Linked DNA regions of Homo sapiens. The protein of the gene in region 1 purifies or fractionates together with the protein of each later gene. This does not show direct contact. Each region holds a gene or a part of one and is shown in the gene's direction. Other genes may lie near its edges.

What was found. Proteins that work in one complex are often made in the same cells at the same time.
Region 2: the proteins of HP1BP3 (region 1) and SON fractionate together in Homo sapiens (co-fractionation; one large-scale study listed by BioGRID). This does not show direct contact.

Annotation. Positions count from the first base shown.
Region 1 is NC_000001.11:20,785,208-20,788,807, reverse strand, and holds the start of HP1BP3 (heterochromatin protein 1-binding protein 3), read left to right. Parts: upstream 1-1,500; 5' UTR 1,501-1,613; intron 1,614-2,135; exon of another isoform or gene 2,136-2,622; intron 2,623-3,600. UniProt on the Homo sapiens protein: Component of heterochromatin that maintains heterochromatin integrity during G1/S progression and regulates the duration of G1 phase to critically influence cell proliferative capacity.
Region 2 is NC_000021.9:33,566,925-33,570,653, forward strand, and holds part of SON (protein SON), read left to right. Parts: intron 1-232; coding exon 233-343; intron 344-2,046; coding exon 2,047-2,163; intron 2,164-3,729. UniProt on the Homo sapiens protein: RNA-binding protein that acts as a mRNA splicing cofactor by promoting efficient splicing of transcripts that possess weak splice sites.

The DNA of each region.
Region 1 (3,600 bases):
GGGTCTTGCTCTCTCTGGGTGGAGCGCAGTGGTGATCATAGCTCACTGTTGCCTCAAATCCTCGGCTTCAGCGATCCTCCTGCCTCAGCCTCCCGAGTAGCTGGGACTAAAGGCCTTTGCCACCATTCCTGGCTTATTTATTTATTTAGAGATGGGGTCTAATTATGTTGCCCTGGCTGGCCTCGAACTCCTGGCCCCAAGCCTCATGCAATCCTCCCACCTCGGCCTCCCAAAGTGCAGGGACTACAGGCGTAAACCACCATGCTCGGCCTAAGTTTTGTTGTTGTTGTTTTAAGCAAAAATCTGTGGAGGAGGAAACATCTCCCAGTTTGCTCTCATCTGAGTCTGCTTCTTACATGAGATGGGTCTAAAGACATTTTAGGGTAAAAGAAGAACGGTAGGATGTTTTAAATGTACGAATACATAAAAATGGAAGTCTTTGAAAAGGAAGACAACAGAAACGTTAACAACGAAGGGAGTGAGCAGAATGAAGAATGGCATAAAAGAGCAAAACCCCTTCTGAACAGCTGGAATATGACACCAGAGTACTAAAGACTGGTAATGCCATCAGGATATGAATGATAACGCACACCTCGTAAAGAATTTTTTATGCTGGCTGTGAAATTTGAACTGATAGAGTGGGGTGGCTGTGGCAGGGAAAGCTGGTGAGACAATTATGCTAATGGCAGGGCCAGACGACTGGGTGAGTGCTTAAATGGTGTCGTAAGTCTTTATAAACCTTGGCACATACGTTTGAGTACTGGTCATCTACTGTAAGCTTGGGACAATTCTACTGGTATTTCCTTACATTTATTACCCAGTCCCTCCCCTGTCCCCCAACACCTGAAACTTTAAAAACAATCTTTCCAAACTAGCTTTGAAGAGCTGTACTTTTCCTTCGTATGTACGTTGTTTAAGTACGCTGATAGCAACGCAATATGACAATTCAAAGGGAATCCCGTCTTCTAATCTCAGGGTTTTCATTCTGGGGAACTCTCCCTGCATGTGAGGATTAGGGAGCCCGGAAAGCCCGTTTCAACTTTTCAGTTCTGAGTCCCGAGTCACTACTCTGCCCTGTACCGTCTGGAGACTTAATGGGAGCGAGTGCGAGGCAGTGAATTCTCCGCTCTCTAGTTTTCCAATTCTACGGTCTTCAAAAAAAGGTTTGCTCTTGAGCTGCGCCTAAACTGAGAAGCGGGAAAGGCTAGCCCCGCTAAAGGCGGACGAGTGGCAGAAGCGGAAACCCAGTTAAGAGAAGGGACTGCCCTGGAGAGCACAGAAAGCGAAGGTTAGCGGGGGAAAGCGGCGCCCCTCCGAGGAAACCGACACCGCCCCGCCACGCCAAGGCAATGGGCGCCACCACGCAGCGCCGGGAACGCGCGCCGACGCCCCGCGCTCCGCCGGCGTCCGCCCGTCCCCGCGCGCCCCCTCGCACCCCACGCGCGGGAGGCGGGGCCGGCGGGGGCGCGCGCGGGGCCGCGGGTAGGGGGGCGGGGCGGCAGAGCTCGGCGGCTGGGACTGGAGGACAGCGGTGGCGGAGGCGACTAGCGGCGGCGGGAGCGGCGCCGAGAGGCCGTGCGGGACGCGGGCGCCAGGACCGGCCGAACGCAGAGGTAACGCAGGACCGAACAGGCGGCCGGGGAGTGGGCGCGGGCTCGCTGGGCCCCGAAGGCGAGTGGCGGAGGCCGCTCGCCCGGGGCGCCGACGCCGCTCCCAGAGAGGAGGGGGCGGGGCGCCCGGGTCCCCGGAGGTGGCGCCTTTTGTCTGCCTTACCCGGCCGCTCCGCCCCGCTCCCTTCCTCTCTCCTGCGACCTAGCCCCCTGCCCTTTTGGTGGACTCCTCCTCAGGGGCCCTCCGGCGCGCGCGCTCCCGCCCTTGTTTTGTTTGGATTTGGGGGAGGAGGGGGAGCTCTTCTCTGGCCGTGCGACCCTGCGTCCCAGCGCGCCTGCGTCGGCGTCCTCTGCCCGCCCCGATTGGCTGAGGGCTGCGCATGCTCCGAGGCCCGCCGCGGTCCGGCGTCCGCCCGCGCCCTCCCCTCACCCCACTCCCTCAGCGGTTTTCGGAGCCGGTTCGAAAGATGCCGGCGGCGGTGACTGGCTGCGGCGGGCCCGCCCCCCGGGTTCTCCGCCCCCGCCGCCGCCATTACGGAGCTCCCAGTGGTGAGTGTGCGGAGCGCCGAGGCTCGCGTTCCGCCGCTGCTTCCGTCGCCGGGGCGGGCGCCGCGGTGTCCCTGCCGAGCGTGAGCCCCGAACTGTCACCGCGCCGAGCCCCAGCCTCATCCGTCGGTGTCCGCGGTCCGAGCTTTCCCCGCCTCGCTGGCGGCCCGCGCTCTCCCCCGCCGTGCGCGTTCGCCGCTGTGGCCTGTAGCTACCTCGCCTCGCTGCTTTGTCTCCGCTGCTCTTGCCGTCCTTCCCGCGGCCTTCTGCGGGCGGGGCTGTCGGCTGTCGCTTTGCTGCTCCGCGACGGCGGCCTTGAGTCTCGCTCCCCCGGTGGGAAACGTAGAACTGGTTACTCGCCACCTTAGGCGGTGGGGTTTGAATGAGAGCGGTGCCTCGGTAGGTCGTCAGAAAGTTACAGTCGCCCATCTGAGCGTTTGTAAGAGATGGAGGCAGGAGTGGTGAGGTGAGAGCCCCAGATCTGAGGGTTGGTACTGCATTAACAGCTGTGACCGGGGACAGCCACTTAACCTTTTTGAGAAAGAGTTGTCTCCCGTACGGAGACCGGACCGGGTGAACTGTGCTGCCGCATCCGCGTGCACGTTCTCTCTGTTGTTTATTGTGCTTCCTGACTTTGCATTGCATTAAAAAGTGAGAATCCAATTCGAAATAACGTCTAAAAATCGCCTGGGGCTTTTTGAGCACGCTGTCTTGTCTTAGAGTGAAATTAGAGGTGACTAGTGTCATTTTTGAAAGGTGCTCTAATTTTGTTTAACCTGACATAGGCAAAAAACTTGTTAGCTTTTTGATTTTTCATTGCTCTTCTCAAAAGTTTAGTGTAATTTGTTTCAAAATAGAAGTAACATTTTAAAGTTTGCTGGGTTGGTTGGTTTTGGCTTTGTTTTTAAGCTTGCTTGGAAGATTGTAGGGCTGGAAGTTAGTGGAGAACGTATACTGAACTCTTCATTTCCGGATGAAAGTTTTAACTCCTTACCCAGTTAGATTGTGATTTTATTGAGATGAGACACTGTAGTGTCCTTAGTATCTATGCCCAAAACAGACACTGAGTATATGTTTGCTTATATAACTTACATTTGAAAATGAAAAACAAGTGGTGTCAGCAGTCAAATTACAGGCATGCTTTTTGTGACATGACTCGTTAAATCTGAGTGTAGTGAATGACTTAAGATTGGGAACAATGTGAGGTGTTCAGCGCATCACTAATGACATGTATTACATATATTTTATGGTAAAATGTGAAATTATAGTGCTTTCCCTAAAATGCATATTATCAAGGATATCAGTAAACTGAAATACGTTGTTAAACTCCTCACTTTTCTACAGCCTTCTCTTAATGTAGAGGAAATAAATTAAAACTGAAATTTGGGGCTTTTTATTTCTACAATACTTTTTTTTATTGCTTGCATTCAAATAATTTAAAGCC
Region 2 (3,729 bases), on another chromosome or scaffold:
CAGATTTTGGGTTCAGTTCTGCGACCTGTGTGATACTTTGTAATTTATCTTAATCCTCTTCTGTTTTCCAAGATTACTTTCTCTTTCTGAGTCTTCTCCCTGTTTTCCAAGATTATTAGTATTATAAGACTATTATTTTGTTTTTGATATGTAGCAACTAAAGATATGAGTACTTTTCAGAATTTAGGGGACTATGGTAATTTGAGATAATTATCTCTGTTTTCTTTCTTAGCCTGTGGACATCTCTACAGCAATGAGTGAACGGGCACTTGCTCAGAAAAGACTCAGTGAGAATGCATTTGATCTTGAAGCCATGAGCATGTTAAATAGAGCTCAGGAAAGGGTATGTAGCAGTTTTTTAAAAAAAATTATTATTTACCATCAGCCAACTCACACCAATGTACCAGTTTTAATGTCTAAATAAGAATTTTGCTAACTAGATGGTTGAGTTGTAACATCCTTTACCTTATTTTCAATGTCTTATTTTAAATGAAAGTGATTCGAGGCCTGATCATTTATTCAATAAATGTTTATTGTTTACTATGTGGCAGGAACTGTTTCTTGAGAGAACAAAATAGAAAAATTTCCCTGTCCTCACAGAGTTTACAATCTGGTGTATAAAAACAACTAAGTGCCTACAACCCTATGAAATGTGTAGGTATTAATAGTTGCCATATTTCAGCCGAGAAAACTGAAGTAAAGGGTGGTTAAGGCCAGGCATGGTCGCTGATGCCTGTAATCCCAGCACTTTGGGAGGCCGAGGTGGGGGCAAGGAGTCAGGAGTTCAAGACCAGCCTGGCCAAGGTGATGAAACCCCATCTCTACTAAAAATACAAAAATTAGCTGGGTTTGGTGTTGCATGCCTGTAATGCCAGCTACTCAGGAGGCTGAGGCAGGAGAAATGCTTGAACCTGGGAGGCAGAGGTTGCAGTGAGCCAGGATCGCGCCACTGTACTCCAGCCTGGGCAACAGAGTGAGACTGTCTAAAAAAAACAAAAGAGTGATTAAGTGATATCCATAGTCACACAACTAATTAGTGGGGGAACTGGGATTCAAACCCAAGCAATCTGAATCTGGAGTCTGTGCTTTTAACAATGGACAGCCTCTCCATTTCATTTCTACTGTTTTATGGTAAATCAGTAAGTACATGTTCAGACAGGAAATACATTGCTGACAGTGCAAGGTGTTTAGTAAATCTAATTTGTGTGAATGACAGCTGATCTTTATCACAACAAATGTTGGTGACTGAAAAAAAGTATACAAGCTTCTTTAAAAAGTTGTTTTACGGCCGGGTGCAGTGGCTCACGCCTGTTATCCCAGCACTTTGAAAGGCCGAGGCGGGCGGATCAGTTGAGGTCAGGAGTTCAAGACCAGCCTGACTAACATGGAGAAACCCTGTCTCGACTAAAAATACAAAATTAGCCGGGCGCGGTGGCGCATGTTTGTAATCAATCCCAGCTACTCTGGAGGCTGAGGCAGGAGAATCGCTTGAACTCGGGAGGAGGAGGTTGCAGTGAGCAGACATCGCACCATTGCACTCCAGCCTGGGCAACAAGAGAGAAACTCCATCTCAAAAAAAAATAGTCGTTTATGTATTCAAGTGGACAGTTTCCTACATTTAAACTCTTTAAACCTGTGTCATGAATTTAGTCTGTATAAATGTCTCAAAGGAAGTAATTAAGAATCCAGGCTGTCATGACATGTATTACAATACATTTGTATGAGATAGGAAGGGAGGGTGGGGACCCATTGTCATATGAGCTCTTTTTTGCATTTTTAGTGTATCTGTGTGATAGTTTGAAGAATATTAACAGCTGTATTTTTTAGTAGCTGTGCTTTTAGATACATTTCAAAATCTTATTAATGGGATTCACTAAATGTTGTCAAACTGCTTCTTTAGAAAGTTTAGGCAAACATTTAATGTTAAATATGTTTTAAAAGTTAAATATTTAAGTCTGCTTTTCAGCCATTTTTAGTGAATTATTACCAGTGATGTTTTAATCAGGTAATTTTACTTAGTTAACTGAGACTACTTCTTTTCTTCAGATTGATGCCTGGGCTCAGCTGAACTCTATTCCTGGCCAGTTCACAGGAAGTACAGGAGTACAGGTTTTGACACAAGAACAGTTGGCCAATACTGGTGCCCAAGCCTGGATTAAAAAGGTACACAGTATATGCACATATGAAAGTGTCGAACAAAAAGTTTAAATTTTTTGGAAACTGTTTATTAAAACTGCATGAAAAGACCAGTGACTCTAACCAAAGTTCCAAGTAAATTTGCTATGTGTATATGCTCCAGGGCGGACACTGAAGACGGACTGGATTCATGAGAAAATGGCAAATGTATAAATGTGGCTCAAGAGCCACTAACTTATAAGGTTATTTTAAAAATTGTTACTGCTGCTTTTGAAGGGGTGATTTAACTTTATTTTGAACGCTAATAGTGTATCAGGTGCTGTTCAGAATATTCCACAGTTCCTGCTGGACTACTAACCTAATCATTTCAAAGCAGTGGTTCTCAAATTTTTCTTCATCATGGGATACTTTATTACAGGTTTATTTTTAGTGGATCACTGCCCCCAAGAGCCCTCTACCACCTTAATTTTCCATTCCTCTATTCCTTTGCCCTCGCACCCCACCCGCTTCATTAGTGCCTGTGCCTTCTTGTAAGATCTCTTGGCCCCCGTTCCTCACTCCTCTTGTGACCTGTAGCCCCAGGACCTTTTGGTTGTCAGCTGCTGGTTACAGCAAGTGGTTGGGAGGCCCTAGTATTAGCTCTGCATGTGGTGATCTTGCCATGGGACTGGAAGCCTGAGGGAGGATGGCTGGAGTGGGGTGGGCTGTGGTGAAGGGGATGGGATGGAGATTAATCTGTGGACCACCATTTAGGCCCTAGTGGCCTCTGGTGATCCACAGGCTCAATTTGAGAACCACTAATTTCATGACAAAACAGATATGTAAGACCTAAAATCAAGGGAGAGAATGGACGCCTCGTGCTACGAAGATGTAGGTGCATCTGGTTTCAGATTCTGCAGTGAGACCTGTGAACTCCACCTACGGCTGCCTCATCATTGGGGGAGTCTTAGGTGGCTAAGAAGGGCATTCTGAAGAAACGCGTTGTGGTGAAGGGACAAAGCTTGGTTGGATGGGTGATGGGAAATTTGTTACAGGAGTACTGGCAGCATAGCAGTGCTGAAACTGGGAGGCCGCGTGGTCTAATGGATTGGGAAGGTTTCTTTATCCTGTTGTACTCCTGACTCCTTGTGTAATCATGGGCAAGTAACTCTTTGGAATTTCAAAGTCTCTGAGGTGTCTAGTGGTAATCAGTAACGTGATGGTTACCTATAGAGAGTTGCTATGAGTGCCAGTGAATGAGCTGAATTTCTGAAAAATGAGACATTGGTTGCTTTGTGTATTTTAATCTTGTAACATTTATTTCAATTTTGATAGCTTTATCTTTGTTGATCTTACTAACAAATTAATATGAAACATCATGTATACTCATTATGCCTGCCTTTTTTTGGGAAGTAGTTGCACTGATGTGTATAGTGAGTACACAGTTAGATTCATTAAGAAATTACAATTTCTGCAGTTTGCTGAGGGTTGGTGTTAGAATAAAGGGTGAAAATGTATATAGCAAAATATTTTAAAGATTGGATTAATCTTGGACTTCTATATTATAGTTACTATGAAAGTGATTTATATAATATTTGAAAAAATGTCTTTCAT